Regions from separate parts of the Homo sapiens genome. Here region 1 is linked to region 2. The links come from fine-mapping of genetic effects on gene expression. Tissue or cell type: naive CD4 T cells. Region 2 holds a variant in brackets; the other region holds the start of a gene. All regions are shown on one strand. Distances are between the middles of the regions.

Region 1 (15,707 bases), 35 kb before region 2:
TTTTTTTTTTTTTTTTTTTTTTTTTTTTTGAGACTGAGTTTCGCTCTTGTGGCCCAGGCTGCAGTGCAATGGCCTGATCTCGGCTCACTGCAACCTCCACCTCCCGGGTTCAAGCGATTCTCCTGCCTCAGCCTCCTAAGTAGCTGGGATTACAGGCGCCCACCACCATGCCCAGCTAATTTTGTATTTTTAGTAGAAACAGGGTTTCTCCATGTTGGTCAGGCTGGTCTCAAACTCCCGACCTCAGGTGATTTGCCAGCCTCAGCCTCCCAAAGTGCTAGGATTATAGTCGTGAGCCACTGCACCTACTGAGATTAGCTGGTTACTGTCACAGCTAGATTCCTAACTTTTCCCTCATGGCACAAACTATATATTTATTATTTTTAACACTCTTTTATTTTTTATGTTTTTAGAGACAAAGTCTCACCCTGTCACCCGGATTAGAGTACTGTGGCACAATCATAGCTCACTGCAGCCTCAACCTCCTGGGCTCAAGCAATCCTCCTGCCTCAGCCTCCCAAGTAACTAGGACTACAGGTGCATGCCACCACAACCCAGCTAATTCTTTTATTTTTTGTAGAGATGAAGTCTTGCTATGTTGCCCAAGCTGGTCCCAAACTCCTGGCCTCAATCAATGCTGCCGTCTTCGTTTCTCAAAGTGTTAGGATTACAGGCATGAGCCACCATGCCTGGCCTGTTTATATACATTAGTAAAAGAGGATCATCCAGATCTCATACATTAAACCACAGAAGGACAAACAGCTAACTAGGAGTTAAAGGATAGTTTTATAAAAGCCCCTGATTGAAGACATCCAAATTACTAGTAACCATTTTTCCACTTTGTCCATGGAAGTCATGGAATCACCTTACGCATTCTGGCCCCAAAACACGGGGACAACATAGACGTATCAGCTATTACTGCCAACAACTAGCTTCTGTAGCATGTGGATTACCCCCTTGTTTAAGAGCCATCTCAGCCATAGTTGCACTTCTCAAGGCTACTCAGGAAATTGTAATGAAAGTTCCACTACGTATGTACCTCCTTCTGCTGAAGCTCTTCTAAATTTGCATTGCACTTAACCTTTTTCTATTAGCAGGTTGGCTTCTTTTGTTTTGTTGAGACAGGGTCCCACACTGTCACCAGGATAGAGTGCAGTGGCATGATCATAGCTCACTGCAGCCTCAATCTCCTGGGCTCAAGCAATCCTCCCATCTCAGCACCCCTGAGTAGCTGGGATAACAGACATGCCACCACACAACCAGCTAATTTTTTAATTTTTCTGTAGAGTTGGAGGTCTCGCTATGTTGCCCAGGCTGGTCTCAAACTCCTGGGCTCAAGCCATCCTCCCGCCTCAGCCTCCCAAAATGCTGGGATTATAGGAGTAAGCAACCGTGCCTGGCCAGCTGGTGTCTTATGAGATACTTTTACTCTCTCCCTCACATAATACAATCTTCATTATAATGCTCTTAAGCTCACTTCCCTGCTGCCTAAAGTGACTGATGAGATGCCCTGTGATTATATATCACTAACAGTATAGCTCTTGATGGCCAGACAGGATTTGTTAAAACAAAACAAAACAAAACAAAACAAAAAAACACTAGAGAATGCTGATGTTATTTGGTGATAGATCATATCTAAAGGATAAATATTGGAAAATATTGAGCAGGCTATGCTGTTGTGTCTTTTGTGGACATTACAAAAAGTAAGCCTTTCCTTATGGTGATATCACCTCAGCTGGCTGAATTAATAGAGCTCACTAGAACTTGCCAGTTGGCCAAAGATCAGACAGCTAAAATTTACACTGACAGTCACTATGCTTTTGGTGTAGCTCATGACTTCGGAATGTTACAGAAATAACAAGGTCATCTGACTTCCTCTAGACACCCTACAAAACATGGCTCTCACGTCTCTAAACTTATAGAAGCCATTCAATTACAAAAATAAATTTGGCTATAAGATCCCTAGATATTCAAAAACTGAGTCTCTGGAAAGTAAGGGAAGCCATTTTACTGATGTAGCAGCAAAGACAGCTGCCCTATTACCAGTATGAGATGAAATCATAGAAATAGCCATGCTTAAATGGAACCCAATTAAAAGGGAATGTCAGGATGCTCAAGAAAGAGCCTCAGAAAAGGAAAAAGAAATATGATTAGCAGGCTGAGTGTGGTGGCTCATGCCTGTAATCCCAACACTTTGGGAGGCTGAGGCAGGAGGATCACCTGAGCCGAGGAATTTGAGACCAGTCTAGGCAACATGGTGAAACCCTGTCTCTACAAAAAAAAAAATACAAAAATTAGCCAGGCATGTTGGCAGGTACCTGCAGTCCCCAGTTACTCAGGAGGCTGAGGCAGGAGGATTGATTGGGCCCAGGAGGTTGTGGCTGCAGTGAGCCATGATTGTGGCACTGTACTCCAACCTGGTAGACAGAATGATACCATGTCTCAAAAAAAGAAAGAAAAGAATGAAAGAAAAGAGAGAGAGAAAAGAAATATGGTTAACAAAAGGCAAATATTCCCCGCTACCACTTGTAACCTATGGTATGGACTCAATGACAAACCCATTTGCCTATGGGATTTCAATTTCCTATGTTACAACACATCTATGAGCTTATACACTGGAGACCTAAAAAAAAAAAATGATTGCATGAGAAAAACAATACTACTGAAAACCTTCACCCACAATAGCTTATAAGGTTTATGCTAAATAAACATAATCTAGCCCCTCTGTGAGTCACAGAGGCACTTCTCCCTTTCTGCTGGACCCTTTGATATTTGACAAACACATTTCGTTCAATTATCTCCTGTTCAGGGATATAAATTCATGTGGGTTATGATTTGCATGTTCTCCCACTGGGTTGAAACATTCCCAAGCAAAAGAGCCACAATGCAAATTATAAGAAAATGTCTGTAATAGTCCATTCTCAGACTGTTATAAAGAAATACTGAGACTGGGTAATTTATAAAGAAAAGAGGTTTAATTGGCTTTGGGTTCTGCAGGCTGTACAGCAAACATAGAAGCTTCTGCTTCTGGGGAGGCCTCAGGAAACTTACAATCATGGCAGAAGGCAAAGAGGGAGCAGCACTTCACATGGCCAGAGAAGGAGCAGGGGTGGTGTGGGGTCGGGGTGGGGGAGGCAGGGGACATGCTACACACTTTTAAACAACCAGATCTCACAATAACTCACTCACTGTCACAAGAATAGGGGATGGTGCTAGCCTATTCATGAGAACTCTAACCCCATGATCAATCATCTTCCACCAGGCCCCACCTCCAACACTGAGAATTACAATTCAACATGAGATTTGGTGGGAACACAGGTCCAAACCATATTATTGCACCCCGGGCCCCTCCAAATCTCATGTCCTTCTCATGTTGCAAAATAAAATAATTCCTTTTCAAGAGTCTCCCGAAGTTTTAACTTATTCCAGCATTATCTCGAAAGTCCGAAGTCTAGTCTGAGATAAGGCAAGTCCCTTCTATTTATGAGCCTGTAAAATCAAAAACGAGTTAGTTACTTCCAAGATACAATGGGGTACAGGCATTGGGTAAATACTCTCGTTCCAAAAGGGGGAAATTGGCCAAAAGAAAGGGGCTACAGGCCCCATGCAAGTCCAAAACCCAGTAGGGCAGTCATTAAATCTTAAAGCTCTGAAATAAGCTCCTTTGACTTGATGGCTCACATCCAGGGGATGCTGGGGCAAAGGGTGGGCTGCCAAAGCCTTGGACAGCTCCGCCCCTTTGACTTTGCAGGGTTCAGCCCCTATAGCTACTCTCATGGCCTGGCATTCAGTGCCTGCAGCTTTTCCAGGTGCATAGTGCAAGCTGTTGGCAGCCCTACCATTCCAGGGTCTGGAGGATGGTGACCCTATTCTCACAGTTCCACTAGGCAGTGCCCCAGTGGGGACTCTGTGTGAGGGCTCTAACCCTACATTTCCTCTCCATACTACCCTTAAGTAGAGGTTCTCCATGAGGGCTCCGCCCCTGCAGCAGGCTTATGCCTGGACATCCAGGCTTTTCCATATATCCTCTGAAATCTAGGCAGAGGCTCCCAAGACTCAACCCTTGCACTGTGTGCACTGACAGGCTTAACACCACATGCAAGCTGCCAAGCTGCCACGCTTGTCCCCTCTGAAGTAGCAGCCTGTACCTGGTCCCCTTTGAGACATGGCTGGAGCTGGAGCAGTCAAGATGCATGGAACAGTTTATTATTTATTTTACAGCACACTACTGGGAGATGAAGACATCAAATGTCATGACCTCCAATTGGGTGACTACATTTATTGGGAAAGACATCAGCTAAAGGACTCTCTTAAGCCTCACTGGAAGGAACCTTATTAGATACTGTTGACTAATCATTGTGCAGCTAAACTTGAAGGATTTGACTCTTGGGTTCACATCTCTCATTTTAAAAAAGCCCCAACTCCTAAATGGATTTCTAAGCCCTCTGGAGATCTTCAGTTAAAATTTTGAAAGACTCCTGGCTCCTCCAAAGACAAGACAAAGACAACAACAGGGTACACAGTGTATCTCAAGATACTAGACCAGTCCCATACAATAAATTTATTCTATAGCTGGGCATGGTGGTGCATACCTGTAATCCCAGATACTTGGGGGGATCGCTTGAACCTAGGAGTTCAAGACCAGTCTACGCCACATAGCAAGACCTCATCAAAAAACAAAATAAAACAATAATTTCCTCTGTATATGACTTCTACTCTCATGCTTTCCTTTTATACTGTCTAAATATTTAATGACAACCCCTCTGTGGAGGACAAAGCAACTCCATCTTAAAAGTTAATCTGGCCGGGCACGGTGGTTCACGCCTATAATCCCAACACTTTGGGAGGCCGAGGCAGGTGGATCACCTGAGGTCAGGAGTTCGAGACCAGCCTGGCCAGCATGGTGAAACCCTGTCTGTACTAAAAAAAATACAAAAATTAGCTGGCCATGGTGGTGCACACCTGTAATCCCAGCTACTTGGGAGGCTGAGGCAGGAGAATTGCTTGAACTTGGGAGGCAGAGTTTACAGTGAGCCAAGATTGTGCCATCGCACTCCAGGCTGGGTGACAGGGCGAGGCTCCGTCTCAAAAAAAAAAAAGCTAATACACCATGTTGGCTTCTGATATTCTTTGTTCTGAGAAGGCATCTAAGATTTCCAGTTTATCTATCGTTCATTGTGTAAAAGCAAGTACTTACCATAAATACTGCCCTAAAGTCAAACAAACTTGATATTATTATATGTCAATTGTCCTACACATTCCTTCTAAACCACCCCTTCCCACTGGTATATAAGCCTTGGGTCTGAGGGGTCATGGTAATGGGCATCCACCATCTTGTCTTACTGCCACTGAAGACACAGACGTGGCTTCTGTTTATAACTGGATTTGTCAGCCTCTGTCTTCAGCCTCTCAGCTTCTGTGGACTTTGGGGTAGGTTTGCACATATCTGCTCCCCACAAAACACCTTCCTTTATTCAATACCCTCACCATACATTGGAAAATAACTAATTTGATGAACATAAATATGGGACAGACTCTTATTTTCCAATATTTCCATATCAAAATGACATTGGTATTCTAATGTCAACCGCTTGGAACCAATCCAATGTTCCTACAGCTTATGGTACTTTCTTTTCAGATATAATATACTATCTGAAATAGTATAATGTACTATCTAGGTTCCCATGTAGAAAGGAACATCCAGAAAGTCCTTCCCAATTCTAGATCTCGTTGGTCTATTTTTAATACTTGACAAATGGATCATTGTGTTTCTATAAATATAGGTATCAGTTACTGTGCAAGGTCCCCAGGTATAAGAAAAGACAGCAGCAACCTGTGTGCCCTGTCACAGTATCTCTTGACTGAGGGGACAGAAACCTTGCTTTTGTGGTTGGAAAAAAAACAGTATAATGTAACCTAAAATCACACAGTAGGAATCACTTAATGGACTAGGATCCCACTAGATGGTAATTTAGGACTCACTCAGAAAAAATATGGGAAGTCTTATGACACACTCAGACTAAGCTCTATTTAGGAGTAGCTACCATTCACCTCATGTTGATTTGGAACACTCAACATTTTTGGGTCCATAACTTATACTCAAACTGCACCTCTGCCATAAATGCCCAGTGGCAACAACATGTTTGGTGGATATGGCAACACTGGCCAAGTAAGGTAGAGATCCTTAGGGGCAACAGGTGCAGGATTGGGGGTGTTAGGGCAAGTCAAGAGTGCATATAATGAAAAAAGGCATTTTCAAAAAAAATCAATACTTACTGACCTAAATTTAAGCTAAAGGAAGTACTCTTCCAGGAAAAAAATAAAGGCTAGGCAGCTGCCTGAAAAGATAATGATGCTATTTTTAAAGCGGGTAAATCAAACTGCTCAATTTATGGGGAAAATGCTAAGGTCCAATAGTGAAAAAGAGCATGTGTCCAAACTCACTTTTTTAGTTCTTTTTTTTTTTTATGGATTTAGGGGTACAAGTGCAGTTGTGTTACATGGATATATTGAGTAGTGGTAAAATGTGGGCATTTAGTGCACCCATCACCAGAATAATATACATTGTATCTAATAGGTGGTATTTTATCCTGCCCCCCTACCCTTGCACCACTTGGAGTCTCCAATGTCTATTATTCCACTCTGTATGTTTATGTGCACCCATTGTTTGACTCCCACTTGTCAGTGAGAAAAAAAATTAATTTTGTTTCTGAGTTATTTCACTAAAGAAAATGGTCTGCAGTTCCATCTATATATATAAATATATATATTTATATATAAGTGTTTTATATACTTATAAATTATATATATAAATATATTACATATTACATATTATAAATATATAAAACACATATTTATATATTATATATAATATATACTATATAACATATAAAATATATAAAATAAAGGCTAGGCAGCTGCCTGAAAAGATATTGTATATTATATATACAAATATAATGTTATATATAAAATATATATTTTATATATACTTATATAATATATAAATTATATATTTTATATAATTTATATTATATAAAATATATATAATATATATATCTTTATGTCCATGAGTACTCAATGTTTAGCTCCCATTTATAAGTGAGAACATGCAGCACTTGGTTTCCTGTTCCTGCATTAATTTGCTTAGGATAATGGCCTCCAGCTGCATTAATGTTGCTGCATATGACATGATTTTGTTCTTTTTATGGCTGTGTAGTATTGACTCATGTCCATGTACCACATTTTCCTTATCCAATCCATTGTTGATGGACACGTAGGTTGATTCGATGTCTTTGCTCTTGTGAATAGTGCTGTGATGCATGTGTCTTTTTGGCAGAATAATTTCTTTTCTTTTGAATATATACCCAGTAATTAGATTGCTGGGTTGACTTGTAGTTCTGTTTTATGTTATTTGAGACATGTCCAAACTGCTTTCCACAGTGGCTGAATTAATTTACATTCCCACCAATAGTGTTTAAGCATTCTCCTTTCCCCATGGCCTCACCAGCATCTGTTGTGTTTTGACTTTAAAAGCCATTCTGACTGGTGTGAAACGATATCATATTGTGGTTTTGATTTGCATTTCTCTGATGACCAGTGTTGTAGAGCATTTTTTCATATGCTTGTGGGCCATTTGTATGTCTTCTTTTGAAAAATGTTGTCCTTCATGTCAAGGGCAGTATGGTCACTTTTTAATGGTTTTTCTTGTTGAGTAGTTTGAGTTTCTTATAGATTTTGAATAGTCACCCTTTGTCACATGCATTCTTTGCAAATATTTTCTCCCATTCTATAGGCTGTATGTTTAGTCTGTTGATTATTTGTTTTGCATTGCAGAAGCTTTTTAGCTTAATGAAGTCCCATTTGTCAACTTTTGTTTTTCATTTTTGTTGTTTCCTTTTGAGGACTTAGTCATAAGTTCTTCGCCTAGGCCAATGTCCGGAAGAGTTTTTCCCAGGGTTTCTTCTAGGATTTTTATAGTTTCAGGTCTTACATTTAAGTCTTAAATCCATCTTGGTTAATTTTTGTATACGGTGAGAGACGGGGGTCCAGGTTCATTCTTCTGCATATGGCTCTAAAATTATCCCGGCACAATTTATTGAATAGGGTGTCCTTTTGCCAGTGTATATTTTGTCAAATATCAGTTTGCTGCAAATATGGGGCATTTATTTCTAGTTTCTCTATTTTGTTCCATTGATCTATGTGTCATGTCTATTTTTATACCAGTACCATGCTGTTTTGTTTACTATGGCTTTGTAGTATAATTTTAAGTCAAAATGTGATACCTCCAGCTTTACTCCTTTTGTTTAGGATTGCTTTGTCTATTTGGGCCCTTTTATGGTTCCACATGAATTTTAGGATTGTTTTTTCTAATTCCATGAAGAATGACATTGGTAGTTTGCCAGGTATTGTGTTGAATCTGTATTTGCTGAATATGTATTCCTGAATCTGTATTTGCTGAATCTGTATTGTTGAATTTGAATTGCTTTGGGCAGTATGGTCATTTTGATGACATTAATTCTTCTAATCCTGGAGCATGAGGCGTTTTTTCCATTTGTTTGTGTCATCTATTCTTTCTTTCTTTTTTTCTTTCCTTCTTTCCTTCCCTTTCTTCCATTCTTTTCCTTTTTCTTGAGACAGGGTCTCACTTTTTTTTTTTTTTTTTTTTTTTTTTTGAGACACAGTCTTGCTCTGTTGCCCAGGCTGGAGTGCAGTGGCATGATCTCGGCTCACTGAAAGCTCCACCTCCTGGGTTCATGCCATTCTCCTGCCTCAGCCTCCCGAGTAACTGGGACTACAGGCGCCCGCCACCACGCCCAGCTAATTTTTTGTATTTTTAGTAGTGACGGGGTTTCATCGTGTTAGCCAGGATGTTCTCGATCTCCTGACCTTTTCACCAAGGCTGGAGTCCATAATCATAGCTCACTGCAGCCTCCAACTGCTAGGCTCCAGCAATCCTCCCACCTCAGCCTCCTGAGTAGTTGGGACTACAGGCATGCAGTGTCAGGCCTCTGAGCCCAAGCTAAGCCATCATATACCCTGTGACCTGCAAGTTATATGCCCAGATGGCCTGAAACAAGTGAAGAATCACAAAAGAAGTGAAAATGGCCTGTTCCTGCCTTAACTGATGACATTCCACCACAAAAGAAGTGAAAAATGGTGGGTCCCTGCCTTAACTGATGACATTACCTTGTGAAATTCCTTCTCCTGGCTCATCCTGGCTCAAAAGCTCCCCCAGTGAGCACCTTGCGACCCCCACCCCTGCCTGCCAGAGAACAACCCCCCTTTGACTGTTAACACATTTTCCTTTACCTACCCAAATATTACAAAACGGCCCCACCCCTATCTCCCTTCACTGACTCTCTTTTGGACTCATCCCGCCTGCACCCAGGTGAAATAAACAGCCTTGTTGCTCACACAAAGCCTGTTTGGTGGTCTCTTCACACGGACGAGAGTGAAACGCAGCACCATGCCCAGCTAATTTCTTTGGTTTTTCAGGGATTGTAGAGACAGGGTCTCGCTATGTTGCCGAGACTGGTCTCAAACTTGTGGCCTCAAGCAATCCCCCAACCTTGGGCTTCCAAAGTGCTGAGATTACAGGCACCAGCCACCTCACCTGGCCTGATTTCTTTCATCAGTATTTTGTAGTTCTCCGTGTAGAGATCTGTACTAGTCTGTTTTCAGGCTGCTGATAAAGACATACCCCAGACTGCGCAATTTACAAAAGAAAGAGGTTTAATTGGACTTCCAGTTCCACGTGGCTGGGGAAGCCTCACAATCATAGTGGAAGGCAGGGAGCAAGTCCCATCTTACATGGATGGGAGCAGACAAAGAGAGAATGAGGAAGACGCAAAAGCGAAAACCCTGATAAAACCATCAGATCTCCTGATACTTAAGTCACTACCACGAAAACAGTATGGAAGAAAACACCCCAATGATTCAATTATCTCCCACCAGGTCCCTCCCACAACACATGGGAATTATGGGAGTATAATTCAAAATAAGATGTGGGTGAGGATACAGGGTCAAACCATATCAAGATCTTCCATGTCTTTCAACAAGAATAATTAATATGTTAATTCACATAGAAGCTGAAATAGTCTCCAAACATGGCCAACCCTCTTAGATTCAGAAACACAAGGTTTACACTTATAAAAAACATATGGACCCCTTTCCTCCTGGAAATTTACTACCAGGGTTTGTAGTCTAATTGACTATACTCCTACAGCTTTAACATCTCATATAGATGATAATCAGACCTATGATATAGTATAACTAGTTAAAATAGAAATCATATTTCAGAGTACCCACATTCTTCCCATGTGCAGTTGACGGGCCATATTACAAAAACAAAATTTGGAACTCCATTTCTGTTTTAGATTGTCCACAGCTTCAAGACGAATGTTATCGTCTACAAAATGTTTAAAATCCTGAAATTATAGAAACGTGGCTTTAGTCTCTACCCATTCAAAATAATATGTAATATATGGAAAATGTTTTTGTTGAGGAAGAAAGATAAATGAGACTGTGACCATCTTAGGCCTCACAATCAGACAACATTTAAGTCATATTGGTATTTGGTGCAAAACTGGATTCATAAAAAATTACTTTGGCGACAAAATGACACAGTAGTCTAGATATTGATACTCAAATATTCTGGGTATTAAAACTCAGTCTTCTTCAGGTTATACTCCCAGCTAACTTACTTTGGGACACGTTCTCGGTCTATACTGAGTCTGTGTTCCCAGGCTTAAGTCCTCAAACTTGGCCGAGTAATAAAACTAACCATGATTTCTTTAAGTTTTAGTACCTGTTATTTCACCTTTCGGTCGACAAATCGTTTTTCTCATGTTCCTCTGTCTTACATCAATTTAATTTGTAGACCAGCCAAATGACCTAAAAGGCTAGAAGGAAACAATTTTTCCTCCCCTACAACTATTTCCTCTAGTCCTCCGGCTGAAAGTTGTTCCACGTCCTGGGCAGAGAGAGCCCCACCAGGCAGCACCACCAGCTCCACAGAGTTGGAGCGATTCCCCCAAGAAGCTCCCCTGCGCCCCTCCTCACCCCCAGAGACCAGCAGAAGAAATGGCATCTATCCCTTGGAAGACACTAGGCAGGAGAGAACAACTGCAAGCCCTTCTGCTCACACAGAAAAAAGGATGGCGGAGGTGGCGAATGGGATGTAGCAGAAACCCCGCGGCTGCGGCGGAAGGGACACCGCCCCTCTCCAGCCTAACTCTGAGCCATCTTCCCCCTGTTGTTATAGCACTTAGAACGGACGCCACTGCGCAGGTCACACCGTGCCGCGCAGCCTTCTGGGGGTCGGAGTCCAGAGGGGCTGAGGCGCGAAGGCGGAGACCGACTTCTTAGCGGGCCGCAGTTGGAATTAGATTTCTACTGGGGCGGGGCTCGAGCGAACCACGGCCTAATCCTCATTAGCAGAGAAGGATAATTACCGCAATACTCTGCCCTGCCCTGACAGCAGCTCGTGAGACCCTGAGTCTGCTGAAGGCCGCCTCCAGCCTGGGCTCCGGGCACAGGCCACACCCCTCCCGCCGCGTCCTGGCCTCTCCCATCGATGGCGTGTGGGTGGGGCTTCGTGGGGGCGGAGCTGCGCGGGGCGGGGCGTCGCTGCGCGGGGCGGGGCGTCGCGGGCTCGTCCGTGATGCTCTGGGATCCCGCGCTTCCGAGACTCGCAGTCTACGCGAGCTGCCTGTTTTTTTCCTGCTTGGACGCGCATGAGGGCCCCGTCCATGGACCGCGCGGCCGTGGCGAGGGTGGGCGCGGTAGCGAGCGCCAGCGTGTGCGCCCTGGTGGCGGGGGTGGTGCTGGCTCAGTACATATTCACCTTGAAGAGGAAGACGGGGCGGAAGACCAAGATCATCGAGATGGTGAGTGTGGAGGCTCGGCGCGCCCAGAGCACGCGAGGGGCCGGCTGGGCCGTCCGCTGGCCTCGGCAGCCTGTGCTGGGCCGCTGTTCGGTCGCGACGGGGAGCTGCCGGCGTCGCCTGTCAGGCTGGGATCTCGCTAGCTCGGGACGCGCAGCTTGGGGGACCCGGCCGCCCCGCGTGCGGCCACTCCGCGGGCTTGGTGACCAGGGTTGGGTCCCCGGCTGCGGCCCTTGGCTGCCCGTGGTCTTTGTTAGGTTTCCGTTTGAAGGAACAAGGCAGAAAATAGATGAATCGGACACAGGCTACTTTGTGCTGCAAAACCCGTTTCTCTAGAGATAAGCTGCATGTCCTGGGCAGGTGGCTCCTTCTCTCCCTGCCTTGCTCCCGCCCTCCCCCCGGATCCGCGTCAAACCGTTGCCGCTAATCTAGTTGCAATTCCCGCAGAGGACTAGTTTTATGTTGGGGCTGCCGTGAGTTAGATTATGAAAATGTGCAATATCTAAAATTTTACAAGAATGGCAATCCAGGAGAAATTCAGGATAGTTTATTTTGTATTTGAATGTATTCCTTCTTGTCTCAAAACTCCCACGAAATATCTTTGTTTTCATCTTAACTCCCAAAGCTCTTGTATACATTTTCGAATTTAATTTTTTATTGAAGAGGGTGTCTCAAGAATTCCCTTTGAGATACATTATAAGTAATTGTTTCAAAAATGAGGATATTTAGTTTCGTTTTGTATTTTAATTAGAACCCACTCAGGAAGACAATTCTTGCACAAACTTGCACGCTTATGTATTTCCTGAAATGCATAATCCTGGGTATACGCCTGACCGTGTGCTATACATGTGAACATCTAGGGTCAGATGATTTATGATAGAAAAAAATTTAAAATCTACACTAAATAATATCATTTTAGGGTGTAATACTTGGAATTTCTGAGCACCTGCAATATGTTCCAACTGACGAAAGACACGATTTGTCCTATTGGTTGTACTGACCCCAGGTTGAATACAGATGTATTTGCATAATTAAAATTAGCCAGTGTCCCAGCTATTTGGGAGGCTGAGAGGAAGATCACTGGAGTCTGGGAGTTCAAGGTTATAATCACACCTGTGGATAGCTACTGCACTCCAGCCTGGGAAACATAGCGAGACCCTGTCTCTTAAAAAAAAAAGTTAATTCCCACTTGTCTCATATTCCAATAATATTCCCTAATTTTGAATTAATTTATTCTTAAAGGGTCTTAATAATTCTAAAGGCTTATTAAAATTCATTTGTCCCACATCTGTATGCCCACAGCAGCAAATGGTTTTAACTCAGAAGTTTCATTTTGCTTTTGTTGCTTTCCTGCTTAGAAAACTTGGCTTTCTTTTGCCCAAGGTTAATAATGCCTATGTAGGGGAAAAAACCGAGTTGCCATATCTCCCTGCCTGTGCTTAAACTATGGATTGGTCTGTATACCACTTATCTAAGCCAAGTAAGGTTAAAAATCAGTGTGTTCACAAAATCCTTCAATGATACCATCATAGGAACAGTTTGCTATCTTTGTGACAAATAATGAAGACCTATCTAGAATACCAACTTATTGGTACTAAAGAAATCAGTCAATATTTACATGTATGCATAGTATATTAATTCAGATTGTAATATATGTGTAGCCTGCTAGTAGCTTTTCAATGGAAAAAGTGAAAAGAGCTTCATGTTAACTTTTTTAATTTTAATAGGTTGCTTCTTCAAGTGGAAGAAGTATTTGACTGGGGGTCAGAAGACCTGGGTTGGAATCCTAGTTCCATCTTTCTGTAATAATGTAGGTCTGCTCTGCCCATCCTCTGCCCTCCTCCCTCAGAAAAATCTCTGCAAACCCATGATGTCCAACAGACATAGCTCATATTGGTCACAGCTAACGGAGTTAACTACCTAACCAAGTTGGGCCTATCTAACTGGCTAAGAAAACCAATAACTTCTGGGACTTGGTCAAAATGATGCATTGTCTTGCAAGAGTTTTTAATTGAGAGACATGAGGAAGTTGCTAGTGGGTTGTGTATGCTACAGCTGAAATATCCCATAGGGCAGCAAGATTAATGTACAGAAGAAGCCAGTCATGGCTAGGCATGGTGGCTCACACCTGTAATCCCAGCACTTTGGGAGGGTGAGGTGGGAGAACCCTGTCTCAAAAAAAAAAAAAAAAAAAAAAAAAAGAAGGAAAGCAAGATACGGAATGGGATCAAGAAACTGAATTGTAAAGGAATTTTGTAAAGCCATTATAAAGAGTTTGCTCTTTATTTTGCAACAAAGGATCATCAAAGGTTTGCTTTGGCAGGGTACAGTGGCTCACGCCTGCAATCCCAGCACTTTTGGAGGCTGAGGCGGGAGGATCCCTTGAGCCCAGGAGTTCGAGACCAGCCTGGGCGGCATAGGGAGACCCTTTCTCTACAGAAAATAAAGATTTTAGCCAGTGCAGTGGCACACACTTGTAGTGTAGTCCCACCTACTTAGGGGCCGAAGGTGAAATCTCTTCAGTCAAGGTGGTCGAGGCTGCAGTGAGTCGTGATCACACCATTGCACTCAAGCTTGGGTGACAGAGTCACCCAGAGTCTCAAAACAGAGAAACAAAAAACCCAACAGTATGTTTTATGAAGATGAGATAAGGTGGACTGGAAGGGAAGATCCTGGAAAGAAATAAATTTAGGAGGTTGGTAGTATTGCTTGCGAAAGATGATTAGAGATCTTAAACTATGGCACTAGCAACAGGTATGGAAATAAGGGATCAGGAGACAAACATTTCCGAGATAAAATCAACGGGACTTTGTGCACAGACTGTAGAGTCATACAAACCTAGTTTTGAATCTAGTTTTTCTCATTTATCAAGCCATGTGACCTTGGGCAAATTACTTAACCTCTCTGAATCTCCCATTTTTCATCTATTAATTGGGAGATAATGATAGTACCTACTTCATAGGTTGTGAAGATTAAATGAGATAACACAGTGCCTAGAACATAATTGCTTTCTTTCAGAGCTTATTATTTGTGATCATTAGATAAAGGGATTAATTGTAAGGAGAAATAACTTTAAGATTATCAGGTAACTGCTGATTCTGGTTATATTATTAGCCAAGATGAAGAGAAGGAAAAAATGGCAGGTTTGGAAAGTAGCCAGGAGGTAAGGGAAATGTGGAATCACAAGTTCACTTTAAGTCATATGAAATTTGAGATGATCAAGGAATGACCAACTAGAAATGTTCATGAAATAGTTAATATATTTAAAGTGCTTAGAAAAGTGCCTGGCCCAGAGTAACCAATATATACATTACTTATTGTTATTATTAGCAATAGCAACTGAAAATGGAAGGCTGGAGCTCTAAAGATAAATTGAGGCTAGAAATAATATTTTCCCTAATGTCTAGCCTCTCAATGGCCAGTGTGGAGCTGGATATTATTTCTCATCCATAGTTTTACAGCGAGAAGAAAACAGAAAACTTGGCAATGCCAAGTTCAGTAAAGATGCTGAAAGCTGTCAGAGGTGGAATAACAGGAAATGTTTCCAAAAGAAGGGGCAGAATTAGCTATGTCCATCTTCTCTAAGGTCAGAAGTTGATGACAAGATCAGAAGTTGGTCTGAAAGGCTATGGTAGCAGTGGGTTGAGCCGCCGTTGGTAAAACAATGATGTGAAGACAACTAAAAAATGACTTTTGGGCAGAGGAAGTAGTTGTGCTGAGGATGGGTATTTTGTTTTGTTTTTCGAATGGTTGGCACAGAAGTATGTTGGTGGGCAGAGGAGTAGTGAAAAGCAAATGGTTAAAGATAAGAGGAGGAGAAAA
Region 2 (15,931 bases):
ATCTCTTCTACCCCTCCCACTCTTTGCTATTTAGTTTCATTTTTGTTTTATGCCTGTATTGAGAAAGTTTCACTTTGCAGCGTGTGTGTTTCTTTTTCCCCACCGCTGAGTTGAAAATCTAATTAGGAAGAATTATTTAAATGCCCCACCAAATTATTACAGCCATACAGAAAAGATGAAGTTACAGTTTGATTTTGCATGTGCTAATCACCCGAAGACAGTAACATTAAAAAAAAAAAAAAACAAAAAACCCAAGCTTAAGAAAGTCAAATAGTACAGGTTACTGAAAAAGTATAGGAAAAATTGATGTTTGGTACTGTTGCGGATACTGTGTCCATATTATGGTAATATATGCCTTTTCTTATGTGAGTAATACACAGTTTAGCATTCACAATTTTATTACCTTATCAATGTAGTTTACATGTTTCTGCGAGTATCACAATTAAAGCAGTCACAGTTTTTAAAGCTATATTCATGAATTTAATCTTTTTCACTTTCCTGTAAGACAGAGTCAAGTAGACCTTTAAAAGTAATCAGTTTGCATTCAGGTACTTTAAGACTTGCTTTAAATCAGGTAATTTTTTTTCATGTAGACATACCAATCAATTTTCATTAATTGACTTGTAAACTATCATCAGAATGAAATACTGTGATAACTAAAGTTTTCAGTTATCAAGTTTGTGTTAAGTGAAGTTCTTACCTCTTGCTTCAGTCTTTAGACTTGTCCTACATATTCCTTGTAAAGAACTCTGCTATAGTAGAGACCTTAATCTCATACAAAAAGCACACAAAGTAATTATTTTCCAGTTTCCACATTTTCCAGTTCACATTTAAAGACTCTGAAGACTTAAAATGTTAAAACTTCCTTTGAAGAGAGTTCGTAGATCAAGGGCAGTATTTTCTATTTTTGAACACGTCTTCTACACTTGATGTGTTTTTTCCAGCAACTCTTCTCTTGAAGCATCTGCAACAGATGACCATTGGCAAAGTAAGCCAGAACTTTATATACCAGGTATAGGTTTACAAGCCTATTGGTTTAAAAATACTCTGCCCTAATTTTCAGTGTCTTCCTTAGAATAGTGCCAGAATGCTGACATTTTACACCTGAGTCTTTACACTTTTTAAATGATAAGACCTTAGAGTAATTTTTGTATAAGGACTGCAGTATCACTTTATGTGAGATTATCTTTGAACAAAGATAAATTCTGGTCAGATTGCTAGTGAGGACTGGCAAGAATGAAAGATCTTTAGTTGAAATTTGCATAGTATTCATGAATTGTTGGTATACTTACCAAAAAAAAAAAAAAGGTCCTAAAGTTGGCCATCAAATTTCTTATCACTCTTTGTTTTTATTTGATGAGACCATGAGAAAGATGATCATTCTTTTACCAACTTATACTGACTTTTTTCCCCTTTAAACTCAAAATGTATGTTCCAAAAAGAGCCATACTTCAGAGGTAGAGAATAAAGAGGATTTCTACTACCTGAATGTGTAACAAAAAGATCTTAGATTCCTAGATATTAAAATGTGTTTAATTCTTCACTGTGTGAATTGTTTGCCCTTGGGCTTTTCAAATGTTTCACAGATTATGCGGTATTTTTGTAAACTCTACAGTACTTTTCCACAGTCTCCACACTATTCCTTTTTTTCAAGCTAATGAGATAGTTTTATTTAAATAGTGCTCTTTGAGAAATCTAGACTGCTTTTCACATATTAAACATCAAAGAAAAGCTGTAAGCATTTAATAATTAGGCTTTGATTGCTATGAATGAAGAAATAGACTTGCATGCAGCTTCTATAATATCTTGTTTGTTAAAAATCTGGATGACTGTGACAGAAAAAAGTTAGACCAAGGAAAGTCTACTTAAACTTGACTATAATCATCTAAGCTAAAGACTACTAATCCCCAAACTACCATTATATTTTGAGGGTGGTGATCAAATGTTTTATGAGTTATATAGTGTATGTGTGTATATATATAGCTGTACAAAGATATATACACATACACATCTTTATATCGATATATATACACACACTCATACTGCAGATACATTCTTTTTCAGATGTGAAAAATTGCAAGTTATCATCTTACTGTTTGGAAATCGTGTTTACTCAATTCTAAGATGCCGTCAATTATGAGACTATCAACTTACTAGCAGGCTTTCTGAGAGAGGGAGAAAAAGACATTTTGTAATTTCATGGACTTAAAATGGAAGGGAGTAGGGACCGAATTTTAGAATTTGAGAAAATTTGATATATCTGCTATAACACCTTTTAATTATAAAGAACACAGATCTAATGTCCAACTTATATTACTAGAGTTTAAGAAAAAGTCAGATATGTTCTCGCTTTCAACTAAGTTGCCATTTTTAAATAGTGCTTTAATTATAAAATTTTACTTATCTGAAATAAAGTAAAAGTAAAGTCATTATGGAACAAACATAGCTTAGTAATTTTCCCTAAGATTTATACTACCAACACAGCAACAACCAAAAATCTTAGAATAATGATGAGAGATGTTTTAAAAACTGGTTCCTTTTGTTTGATGAACAGATATATTTAAACTTCACCCAGACCCTAAAAGGTTCATTCAGTTGATAAACACTCTCACATACCTATTTTGTGCTAGACACAATGCTCGATTCAAATACAGCTCATGTCTTAGTCATATCATATTAAAAAATTAAAGATTTTAGGCCGGGCGCAGTGGCTCATGCCTGTAATCCCAGCACTTTGGGAGGCAGAGGCGGGTGGATCACGAGGTCAGGAGATCGAGGCCATCCTGGCCAACATGGTGAAACCCCATCTCTACTAAAAATACAAAAATTAACCAGGCGTGGCGGCATGCGCCTGTAATCCCAGCTACTTGGGAGGCTGAGGCAGGAGAATCACTTGAACCCGGGAATCAGAGGTTGCAGTGAGCTGAGATCATGCCACTGCACTCCAGCCTGGCAACAGAGCAAGACTGCATCTCAAAAAAAATAAAAATAAAAAATAAAAAAATAAAAATAAAATTTTAATGTAAGAAAATTGAAGGAAAAAATGGACTTTTGTGTTATGTCTTCCCTTACTTTGTTCTGTCTGTATATTCCTATATTGATTCGGTAGTAGCAATGCATAATTTTCCCACAAACTTCATCCTTACATGTAGAGAAAGTGTTGATAAAATATTCTTGCAATAAAGTGCTCTTTGCAAATATGTACTTCATTTTCACTGTTTATTCAATTTTCTTAATACCATATAAGTTCTTACAGGAGAGCTTCAGATTCTCCATACAAAATGGTTAATCTAAAACTATGCTGGATAGAGTAAAACCCTTGCTGAGCTTCTTAGAAAAAAAAAAAAGATGCTTTATGTGTCAAATATAGGCTATGTTAAATCATAGCAAAGCCTTTTGCCTCATTGCACTCCCGAAAGCAAGATGGGTCACCAGCAGCCCTACTGGAGCCACCCACGGAAGCTGGGCCAGGGTTCTCACTCTTGTCACATCTGCCCAAACCAGCATAGTCTGATCTGGAAACACGGCCTCAATATGTGCCGCCGGTGTTTCCATCAGTATGCAAAGGACATAGGTTTCATTGAGTTGGACTAAGTGATCTTCCTTGAATGGATTATCCAAGGCATCCACCCAATGAAAGAAACCATGTTAGTTCTTTGTACATAAAATAAACATTTTTAAAAAACAAAATAAATAAGTCATACCAAAAATTCCACCTTAATATATTATTGGCATAACAGGAAGAACCTGAAATTTATGTATGTCACGTGTACTTTTTTTTTTCTCTTTTGCTGTGACATCACCTGGGAAAATCCAGAAGATTGGATAACCAAGAAATGACTAATCAAGAGTCTGCCGTACATGTGAAAATGGTGGGTATTTGCCTATTTCCAGTTCCATTTATTAATGGTAAATCTTCACCACTTTTACCTCTGTCTCTAACCAGATAATTATGGGACTGAAATTTTATACAACTCTTTCTTCACAGTGCATCACAAAATAAACCTCAAATACTTATTGAATTGAATTTCAAATTATCTTTAAAATGTTTTTGCTTGAAATCTAATGCACATTGTCGTGCTTCTCAGAATATAAAATGTTTCCCCATTCCTTTTTACGCTAAATTTTCTTTGCTCAGCAATAACACACTTAAATCGTACAGTGTGAAATACATTATTGTAGGTTTCCAAATTTAAATGACAAGCATTCAGAAATTTTTAAAATACTTACTTGCATGACAATAGAGTTGCATTATATATACTAGGATGAGATAGGAAATGTACAGGCTTTGGAGTCAGAACTGGCTTCGTATCTTAACTCATTCCGGCCGGGTGCCTGTAATCCCAGCACTTTGGGAGGCCGAGGCGGGCGGATCACCAGGTCAGGAGATCGAGACCATCCTGGCTAATACAGTGAAACCCCATCTCTACTAAAAATACAAAAAATTAGCCGGGCATGGTAACAAGCTCCTGTAGTCCCAGCTGCTCTGGAGGCTGAGGCAGGAGGATGGCTTGAACCCAGGAGGCGAAGGTTGCAGTGAGCCAAGATTGCGCCACTGCACTCCAGCCTGGGCGACAGAGCGAGATTCCGTCTCAAAAAAAAAAAAAAAAAAAAAACTCATTCCTTATTAGCTTCTATAGCCCTGAATGAGAGCAGTAATCTTACCTTTAAGAAATGGGTGTGAAACCGCCAACTATGTGTTATTATTCATACTCAGTGAAAACGTCAAGTTCCTAGTAACCCCAGATTAAGCATTCATTAAATATTGATCTACTCTATTACGTTAGTGAGTGTTTTAACTGTGTAACTGGCATATTTATTTGCATGTGTGGAAAGAAATTACATCTGTTCTCCATATTCACAGTGATAAAATCTTAAAAACAACAATTAAAAATAATCCTTTCTTTTAAAGAGAACAACTGCCTCATGATCTCTTGTTTTCTCTTTGTGTTCTTATTATTGTTGTGCCTCCTCTTCTGTTCCATTTATTTTTTCAGCTTTCTCTTTCTCTCTAGCTTTTTTCTGGCCTATAAACTAGAGCGTGACACAGCATTTTGTCACGCTTAATAAATCTCTTGTTCATCTTTCCCCCAACCAGTGTAGGATCAAAGGTGAAAGTTGACTCAAAATGGTGATTAAGTCATCGTCAGTTTAGTTATTGCTCTTAGGTTGAAGCGTATGAAATTGTTTTTATATGTCAAATATAGTCCAGTATTGCCAGTTTTATATGGTTCAACCTAATAACAGCTCTTTCTATCCATTGAAGGATTGGCACTTGATTCATTGGAATTGAGCATATCTCTTTGATACATAGAATTAAACCAGTCTAAAACTTATTTTCTTGTTTGGGTTGACTTTTTTTTTAACTTACGTGAACACAAGCAGTATAGGAATTCCCTGACATATAAACAATGTTAATCCTCTTTGTATAATGTTGTTACTTGGGTCCTAGAGCCCTCTAGAAGGTGTTTGTGGAGGCAAGTAGCAGTGTATTCACTCCACAGTTATTCAGACTGTTGAAGGAAAACAAGCCAAAAGATTTTTTTTAACTATTATTGCATTAATTTACACAATTTTTACCTTGGGTTTGCTTTCCTAAAAATATTGATAGGTCTGGCCGGGCGCGGTGGCTCACGCCTGTAATCCCAGCACTTTGAGAGGCCGAGGTGGGCAGATCATGAGGTCAGGAGATCGAGACCATCCTGGCTAACATGGTGAAACCCCGTCCCTACTAAAAATACAAAAAAATTATCCAGGCGTGGTGGCGGGCACCTGTAGTCCCAGCTACTCGGGAGGCTGAGGCAGGAGAATGGCATGAACCCAGGAGGCGGAGCTTGCAGTGAGCTGAGAGGCGCCACTGCACTCCAATCTGGGCGACAATGCGAGACTCCCTCTCAAAAAAAAAAAAAATTATATATATATATATATGTCTTTTATATTGACAACTTTATAGCATGTTATTCTTTACTTCTCATGAACAGGATTCAGATCTCTCTGTCCAGACTTTTTACATGCACACTTCTCTGTGTACACTCAAGTTCTATACAAACAGAGCTATTTCTCTTTTTCCCATATTAGACCCTGCACTTTGATTCCTCCCTAATCTCAGCATATCTAAATCCTGTTTCTCTTCCAGAGCCTACCTCTGTTGGCTCTTCCTCCTTTGACCCCAGAAGAAGAAATCTTTGTTTCTTCTATTCCTTTTACATTTTATCTGGACATCTTGGCAATGTATTAATTATTTGGGTTTCTATTTTTTAATCCACATTAGAGAATATGCACCTTGAGTGTAAGATTTATATTTTATATATCTCTTACAGAGCGGCTTCACACACTGTCTTATACTTAATATGTGGTGAAGGAATGAAAGAATTTGGCCTACACTATCTTAATGTAGAAACAGACCAAATATGTAATAAGCAAGGGAAATCGCTATTACTAAAATTTAGTAGTGCATAATCTTCCAAATAAATCTGAGAATCATCTATGTGTGGGGGTAAATGTACCAGTTTGAATAGGTGGCTTTAAATCTATACTTTCTGTGTAGCTGGATAAAAACTCTAGTGCCTACTTCTTTGTACCACTGCAGTAATGAAGTCTTTTGTTGCTACCAAATATAAACAATGGAAAACCAAGAAAGAATATTTCTCTGAGAACATCTGACTGGAATTTCTTAAGTGATTCAAACTAATTTTTATGTGGGCTATTTCCAGAAAAATGTAGGATAATACTAAGGTGATTTAAAATTCACTGAGGCTGGGCACTGTGGCTCATGCCTGTAATCCCAGCATTTTGGGAGGCCAAGGCAAGAGGATCGCTTGAGCTCAGGAGTTTGAGACCAGCCTGGGCAACATAGTGAGACCCGTCTCTACAAAAATTAAAAAAATACCTGGGCATAGTGGCAGATGGCTGTAGTCCCAGCTACTCTGGAGGCTAAGGTGGGAGGATCTATTGAGCCCAGGAGGTCAAGTCTGCAGTGAGCTGTGATCACGCTACTGCACTCCATCCTGGGTGACAGAGTGAGACCTTGTCTCAAAAATTTTAAAATAGGTCAGGTGCAGTGGCTGATGCCTGTAATCCCAACACTTTGGGATGCTGAGGCAGGCAGATTGCTTGAGTCCAGGAGTTCAAGACCAGCCTGGGCAACACTACAAAACCCTGTTTCTACAAAAAAATGCAAAAATTAGCCGAGGGTGGTGGTGAGCCCCTGTAGTCCCAGTTACTTGAGAGTCTGAGGTGGGGGGATCACCTGAGCCCAGGAGGGAAAGTTGCAGTGAGCCAAGATCACGCCACTGCCCTCCAGCCTGGGTGACAGAGCAAGACCCTGCCTCAAAAAATAAAAATAAAAAAACATAAAAGTAAATTTTTTTTTTTTTTTTTTT[G/TTG]GAGACCGAGTCTCACTCTGTCACCCAGGCTTGGAGTGCAGTGGCGAAATCCTGGCTCACTGCAACCTCCGCCTCCTGGGTTCAAGCAATTCTCTTGCCTCAGCCTCCCAAGTAACAGGGTTACAGGTGTATGCCACCATGCCCAGCTAATTTTGTATATTTAGTAGAGATGGGGTTTCACCATGTTACCCAGGCTGATCTCGAACTCCCGACCTCTGGTGATCTGCCTGCCTTGGCCTCCCAAAGTGCTGGTATTAGAGGCATGAGCCACTGTGCCTGGCCTTTTTTTGTTTGTTTTTGAGACAGAGTCTCGCTCTGTCACTTGGGCTAGAGTGTAGTGGTGCCATCTCGGCTCACTGCAACCTCTGCCTCCCGGGTTCAAGCGATTCTCCTGTCTCACCCTCCAGAGTAGCTGGGATTACAGGCATGTGCTACCATGCCCAGCTAATTTTTGTATTTTTAATAGAGACAGGGTTTCACTATGTTGGCCAGGCTGGTCTTGAACTCCTGACCTTAGGTGATCCACTGGCCTTGGCCTCCCTAAGTGCTGGGATTCCAGGCGTCAGCCACCGTGCCCGGCCAAAAATAAATTTTAAAAATAATAAATAAATGAAACTCATATAGATGAACATACATATTTATAAATTAAAAGTACAAGTAATTTTTTTAGTCTTGGTTAAAATATGAATTGTTTTCTCTGTACATTGTGGATTGTATAACCCTTAGTTTATTTTGTTTTTTATTTTTAGTTTAAGAATAATAATTCATTATTTTAAATATAATGTATTTATGTGTGTTTTTTAATACAAAATCTTTTTATTTATTTATTTTTTTTTTGAGACAGGGTCTCACTGTGTCACCCAGGCTGGAGTGCAGTGGCATGATGTCAGCTCACTGCAACCTCTGCCTCCCAGGCTCAGGCAATCCTCCCACCTTAGCCTCCGAGTATCTGGGACTACAGATGTGCACCACCATGCCCGGCTAATTTTTGTATTGTTTGTAGAGACAGGGTTTTGCCACGTTGCCCAGCCTGGTCTCGAGCTGCTGAGCCCAAGTGATCCTCCTGCCTCGGCCTCCTAAAGTGCTGGGATTACAGGCATGAGCCACCATGCCCGGCCGTGTTTTCTTTTTTAATCAAAATTTAATATAATTTGAAATCTAGTTCAAACAGAATTAAACTTTGAAGTTGTCATAATCTCATCCTGGAAATTAGGATTATCCCTAGTCTGGAATATTATCATTGGATTGATGATACCAAGCCACACCCAGAAATTTGGTAACTGTACTATGGAGCTTCTCTCTTTTTTTTTTTTTTTGTTTTTTTTTGAGGCAGAGTCTCGCTGTCGCCCAGGCTGGAGTGCAGTGGCGCGATCTCGGCTCACTGCAGGCTCCGCCCCCCGGGGTTCATGCCATTCTCCTGCCTCAGCCTCCAGAGTAGCTGGGCCTACAGGCGCCCGCCACCTCGCCTGGCTAATTTTTTGTATTTTTAGTAGAGACAGGGTTTCACCGTGTTAGCCAGGATGGTCTCGATCTCCTGACCTCGTGATCCGCCCGCCTCAGCCTCCCAAAGTGCTGGGATTACAGGCCTGAGCCACCACGCCTGGCCAGAGCTTCACATTTTTATCTTATCCCAGTGTATCCACAAGATCATATCAAATCTAATATTAAACAATTGAGTTGTGGATAAAATGGCATAACTTTGAAATCCATTTCATCTCTATAAATATATTAAGTATTGGTCAAAATAAGTGAATTTTAGGTCTTTCTTAATCATTTTTGGTGTTGATTCAGATTGGCATCAATCAACCAACATACCCTGATTCTTTTCAGGAAGGCATTGCTCCCTCCCCAACATTTTACGCTGCGGCTTTACCATAAAATGAATTTGTTCTCTTTTTATCACAAATGATGGAAATTTTTAGCTTCTTATTTATTTTTCATAAAATTTTATCATAATCAAATTGAAAATTTTTCAGACAATTCAAAATACCTTGCCCTTCAAATTTGAAGTATCATTATTTATATGCCACCAAACCAAGTCTGTGTTTTTATAAGAGGGATATAGACAGAAGGACTTTGTGGAGGTAACAAAAGTATGTGATCTCATGCAACAGTTGGGGCATGTTCAACAACAACCACCACAACAAAAAGTATGTGATGTATTTCATCATACTTCTACAGTGTGCTTATATTATGATACTCTTTGACATATTCCATACAGGAGTCTTTGATTCTCTTTCTTAGGCTATATTGTAAAGTATTTGAGTAAAATACCCCATATCTCAAGTTCTTGTGAAGTATTTCTCATATAGATCAGTGACATTAATTGTGTATTGCAGGAGAGGAGTATAGTATACTATATAACCCAAGACAGATAGAATGGTCATTTTTATATTTCTTATACCTATTTCATCATTATTTTACTCCCGTGCCATTTGTGTATTCACTACTTATGAATACACAATGAAAATGAATGGTTGTATGTTGCACAGGAGCCACCAATGCCTTTAGCTACTGGTTCTCTTTCATCCATTGTGATTTAAAGTAAACCAGTATTGGCTGGGCATGGTGGCTTACACCTGTAATCCCAGCACTTTGGGAGGCTGAAGCGGGGAGATCACTTGAGCCCAGGAGTTTGAGACCAGCCTGGGAAACACAGCAAGACCTTATCTCTATAAAAATAAAATAAACCAATCTTACATTTGTTAGTGTAGCAGAAACCAGCCTTCTTCGAAGTGGTCTTGGTGTGATTCTCCTATCCGTTATCAAAAACTTGAAGCTGTGATTTGCCTGAGGTAAGACATCTTGGGTACACTGAAATCAAATATTTAATTTTTTTGGTGAAAAAATAGTCTATGATATATATCCTGTGTTGCTTTCACCATAATGGATTGGTTATTGAATCAAACATATGCTGATTGCTGTGCATCTGCCAGTTAAGGCTGAGGTAAGAACAGAAATTAGTTGTCAAGAGATAAACTTACTAGCTGAGGTATTTGTAAGGGAGTTACAGAAGTGATATTCCAAAACAGCAGTGGTCCCTAAAACTCAGCAGAAAAGCAGAGTAAATACTACTCATCATCATATCCCTAGCATTTAGCAAGAGTGTGTGGCACAAAGTAGACACATGGTAAATATTGGTTAGGCGAGTGAATGGGTTAATGTATGAAAAAAAAAAATAGGAACCAGTGCCTATCTGCCTTTCCATCTATTGAAAAATCACTATAAAATACATAGATAACCTTTAAGCCATTGAAACTCATCCAGTTGAGTTAAAAGGATTACTACATCAAGGTTAGTTGCATTGCAGGTCATCCTACTTAAATATGGCTTTTTAAAATTAAATATATTGTAGGTGGTAGATCTTTCATCCATGGAGAAAATTTTAATGTTAGCATTTGTCTTTTCTCTACACTTTCTTTTTTTTTTCAAGCTCTGCCTCCCGGGTTTACGCCATTCTCCTGCCTCAGCCTCCCAACTAGCTGGGACTACAGGCACCCGCCACCACGCCCAGCTAATTTTTTATGTTTTCAGTAGAGACAGTATTTCACCATGTTAGCCAGGATGGTCTCGATCTCCTGACCTCGTGATCTGCCCACCTCGACCTCCTGAAGTGCTGGGATTACAGGCGTGAGCCACTGTGCCCGGCCTCTTTCCTCTACACTTTCGTTATCATCTTCCAGTCTTTGGAAGACAGTCCATCCTTTTTCTGATTTTTCTACTCTTGCCCATTATGTAGGAACAACACGGCATCTGATAGATTTACGTGGTGAGATTCTCTTGTAGCAAAGATAGAAGGTCCAGGGAATTTTTGTAACCATGTCCATGACACACATGAACTATGTTAATATTACTAATAACATACCCAGAATAAAAACATATAAATAAAGATTATCCAGTACAAACCAGTATAGAACTTGGATTTGAGGTACTATTATTGCCTATGCTGTATAACTGACTATAAAATGAGGCATAATTTTCTCCTTCTAGTTGTATTGTACATGTGCTATGAGAGCTTGTACTGATTTTTCCTCTAATCAGTTTCATTCTATTTGTGATAAAATAGCTAGTAACAAGAAATAATACTTAAGATTAAATTGTTGAGCAACCCTAAAGTCTTCATAACTCTGTAGTAGCAGCCTACACCCATTTTTTAAGATGGGTCTTGCTGTGTTGCCCAGGCTGGTCTCAAACTCCTGGGCTCCAGTGATCGTCAGCTTCCAAGTAGCTGGGATTACAGGCATGTGCCACTGTGCCTGGCACAATACTTTTTGGCAGTTATCTCCATTTGAAATAAATCTATTGTAAAATGTGTGCCAAGAACAGTATATTATTTGGAAAATAGTACAATAAAAAGAGCAAAGATCTTGAAGCAGCTTTTCAAATTTAAAATATTTTAAATGTATTTTAATTATACAAAGACAAACTTTTGGGGGAATAATTGTGATAATTGCTTCCTTTCTGCTCAGGAACATTTTAAAATATAAATATGTAGGCAAGCTAAATGTATGTATTAATTCATAAAAGCCAGATGCAAAAGTATATAATGAGGATGAGCTAAAACTATATGCGTATATATGCATGTTTCAGAGGGATATGCTGAAGGTATTATATTAGTATTAGGGTGGAAGTTTAGTTACTGTATTATATAAAATGGAGGCTTAACGGGAGTCATCTTAAGATTTTTAGAAAAATTAATCAATCGAGGGGTAGCTGCTGGGGTATTCATGGTTAAAATATGATTTCTGGGCTCTCTGGATTGCATCACAACCCAGAAATGAAACTAATAGAAAATCACAGAAATGAAACTAATAGAAAATAAATTTAAATGTTACTTGTTTATCTTCACGTAGTTGAACTCCAGGCAGTTTTTATTGTCTTTTTTATATTTTTACTGTTATTTCTGTGGTAAGCGTGCATTGCTTTTATACTTAGAAAAAGATATATACTTTCTGATAAAGCAATTGAATCACAAATGTAGTTTTATCTTACTCTGTAGCTGGAAAATACTGATAAGTTTTAAGTATTTTTGTGTGTATAAATGGTAATGTGGGAGCTGGGCTTGGTGTCCCACACTTTTAATCCCAGGACTTTGGAAGGCCAAGATGGGAGGATTGCTTGAGGCCAGGAGTTCAAGATCAGCCTGAGCAACAAAGCAAGACCTCACTCACTTCTACAGAAAATTTTAAAAATTAGCTGGGTATGATGGCGCATGCCTTCTACCTACTCAGGAGGCTGAGATGGGAGGATCATTTGAGCCCAGGAGTTTGAGGCTACGGTGAGCTAGGATTGTGCCACTGCACTCCAGCCGGGGTGACAAAACAAGACCTCATCTCTAAAAAAGTAATAACAAAATAAATAAACGGTAATTTGATGTGGTGGCTTGCTTTTTAAAAATAATGCCTTAATATTTTTATGTCTTTAAATAAGACAGGTTTCTGCTTGGTATCAAAGGAACCTGGGGAAAGAAGAATGAAAACTAATTAATTAATTTTCTTTTACTTTTAGATGCCAGAATTCCAGAAAAGTTCAGTTCGAATCAAGAACCCTACAAGAGTAGAAGAAATTATCTGTGGTCTTATCAAAGGAGGAGCTGCCAAACTTCAGGTGAATAATTATCAAGAAGCCTTGGCTGTGTGTGTTGGCTCATGCCTGTAATTCCAGCACTTTGGGAGACTGAAGCAGGAGGATCACTTGAGCCCAGGAGTTCGAGACCAGCCTGGGCAACATAGTGAGACCCCATCTCTATTTAAAAAAAAAAAAAAATGGCCGGGCATAGTGGCTCACACCTGTAATCCTAGCACTTTGGGAGGCCGAGGCGGGTGGACAAGGCTGAGGTCAGGAGTTCGAGACCAGCCTGGCCAACATGGTGAAACTCTGTCTCTACTAAAAAATACAAAAATTAGCCGGGCCTGGTGGCGCATGCCTGTAATCCCAGCTACTTGGGAGGCTGAGGCAGGCTAATCACTTAACCCCGGGAGGCGGAGTTTGCAATGAGTTGAGATCATGCCACTGCACTCCAAAAATAAAAGCTTAATAATAAAGGCTTCTTTTTTTTTTTTTTTTTTTTCTTTTGAGATGGAGTCTCGCTCTGTTGCCCAGCCTGGAGTGCAGTGGCGCAATCCTGGCTCACTGCAACCTGCTCCTCCTGGGTTCAGGCGATTTTCGTACCTCCGCCTCCCCGAGCAGCTGGGATTACAGGTGCCAGCCACCACAACCAGCTAATTTTTTTGTTTTTTGAGACTGAGTATTACTCTGTTGCTCAGGCTGGAGTGCAGTGGCACGATCTCAGCTCACTGCAACCTCTGCTTCCCGGTTCAAGCAGTTTTCCCTCCTCAGCTTCCAGAGCAGCTGGGATTACAGGTGCCTGCCACCACACCCAGCTAATTTTTATATTTTTAGTAGAGACAGGGTTTCGCCATGTTGGCCAGGCTGGTCTCAAACTCCTGGCCTCAAGTGATCCATCCACCTCGGCCTCCCAAAGTGCTGGGATTACAGGCGTGAGCCATCATGGCCCAGCCTTATTTTATTTTTAATGTTAAAGCCGACTCATTCATCTCCTGTTTGATAAAATCTGAGTACAGCAAGTTTAGGTAGACAGTTTTTGCCTATCCTTTAGGAATATAAAATCCAGAAAATATATATCTTGAGTTGTTCTAAAACAGACAGAATACCCTATTGGAAAAACAAAAGTTAATAATCCTGAAATACTCTTAAGTTTTTATTAGTCTTAAGTAAGAAGCTAACTCATGCTGTGTACAAGCATTAAACCATTTTAAGGATAATATTTAAAAGTGTTTAGTTTTATGCTGCTCTTTCATGTTTTAATCATAGTAGTTCAGATTAAGATACAGCCTTATTAAGGGGATAATTGAGTTTTTAAAAAGTTGTCTCTGTTTTAAAGGAATGTGTTACATGTAAATTAAATCAACAATCTGGATATTCTGTAAAAAAAAAAATTATTCCTTTTTTAAAACATTTCTGAAAAATAATATTTAACCCAGTCTCCTAAGTTTCAAGAGCTGGCCAGCTATTTCAATGTGCATTCATTCATTGGTATAGTTTAAATAAGCAAGTTAAATCCAGCATGTAATGGTATCAGTAACTAAGAGCTTCATATAGTTGAATTGCTTCCACTGCATTTTTGTGCATTGACCAAGTTGGTCGAAAATCTCTAGTGAGAAGAGTAGCCATATCACCTGCAATTGCAAATTCCCATACCAATTAATCAGATTTTTTCAAATTTTTATTTATTTTTATTTATTTAATTTTGTTTTATTTTTTCGAGATGGAGTCTTATTCTGTCGCCCAGGTTGGAGTGTAGTGGCATGATCTTAGCTCACTGCAACCTGCGCCTCCCAGGTTCAAGTGATTCTCCTGCCTCAGCTTCCTGAGTAGCTGGGATTACAGGCACATGCCACCACACCTGGCTATTTTTGTATTTTTAGTAGAGACAAGGTTTTACCATCTTGGCCAGGCTGATCTCAAACTCCTGACCTCGAGTGATCTCCCCACCTCGGCCTCCCAAAGTGCTGGGATTCCAGGCATGAGCCACCGTGCCTGGCTGGATTTTTTCAATTTTTAAAGTCGATACATAATAACTGTATATATATATGCGGTACATGTGATATTTTCAAATGTATATAAAATGTGCAATAATCAAATCAGGGTAATTAGGATATCTGCCACTTCTAATATTTATTCTTTGTTTTGGGAACATTCTAAATCTTTTCTTCTAGCTGTTTTGAAATATACAATAAAATACTGTTTACTATAGTCATTCCACTGTGTAAACACTAGAACTTATTCCTTCTAACAGTATTTTCATAACCATTAACCAGCTGTTCTTTATCTCACCAACCCTCCCACCCTTCCCAGCCTCTGGTAACCGTCTTTCTACTCTCTGTTTCCATGAGATCAACTTTTTAAGTTTTCACATATGAGTAAGAACATATAATATTTGTCTTTCTGTGCCTGTCTTATTTCACTTAAGATAATGACCTCCAGGCTCGCCCATGTTGCTGCAGATGACAGCATCTCTTTGTTTTTTATGGCTGAATTACGAATCAGATTTATTTGGTGAAAACACTAGGGCACTCAAGGTAGCACCTTGTAGTTAAGATTATTCCCAGGACTTTATAAAGGAACCGCATGAGAAAATTCAATGTAAAGAGAATAAGTTAACAGTGTGGACCAGAGACTTGAGCACAGTCCTATGCATCTAGGAAAGCATGAAGTATGTGTTTGGGTAGCACAGAGAAATTCTGGCCATGTGGGCTATGTTTACAATAATGCATTTCACTCTTTTCTTACAGATAATAACGGACTTTGATATGACACTCAGTAGATTTTCATATAAAGGGAAAAGATGCCCAACATGTCATAGTAAGTGTGATATTTGTAAACAAATTCACAAAAGCATGTCATCATTATTTTAAGATCCTCTTTATATTACCTGTGAGATAACTGGGTTTTTAAAATTCTTCTTGGACATTGACAGTGAGGAGACCTGCTTTTTCTTATTATATTTTTGAGGTTTTTTTTCCCAT

Which allele goes with the higher level. Alleles are on the strand shown, and positions count from the first base shown. SD is a standard deviation of normalised expression in the study named.
For the expression in naive CD4 T cells of the gene that starts at base 11,680 in region 1, allele TTG in region 2 goes with a lower level than allele G (large effect, 1.1 SD a copy in Schmiedel 2018).

What was found. PIP is the estimated chance that this variant, and not a neighbour inherited with it, causes the effect.
Region 1: NT5C3A starts here. The variant in region 2 is fine-mapped to the expression of NT5C3A in naive CD4 T cells (Schmiedel 2018, PIP 0.90).

The regions. Positions count from the first base shown.
Region 1 is chr7:33,058,749-33,074,455 of GRCh38, reverse strand. It overlaps NT5C3A (5'-nucleotidase, cytosolic IIIA), which reads left to right and starts at 11,680. Exons shown (of 9, transcript NM_001002010.5): 1 at 11,680-11,888. The coding sequence starts at 11,751. LOC124901610 (a long non-coding RNA gene) reads right to left here and starts at 11,271. Exons shown (of 4, transcript XR_007060279.1): 1 at 10,808-11,271; 2 at 10,309-10,427. RefSeq lists an enhancer at 11,166-11,325 and silencers at 11,566-11,685, 11,986-12,045.
Region 2 is chr7:33,023,875-33,039,805 of GRCh38, reverse strand. NT5C3A (5'-nucleotidase, cytosolic IIIA) reads left to right here. Exons shown (of 9, transcript NM_001002010.5): 2 at 12,891-12,989; 3 at 15,698-15,767. It also overlaps the pseudogene RPS29P14. Among named protein-coding and RNA genes, the nearest start is that of NT5C3A, 31 kb to the left of the region's middle. The variant G/TTG (reference allele first, on the strand shown) is at 7,383.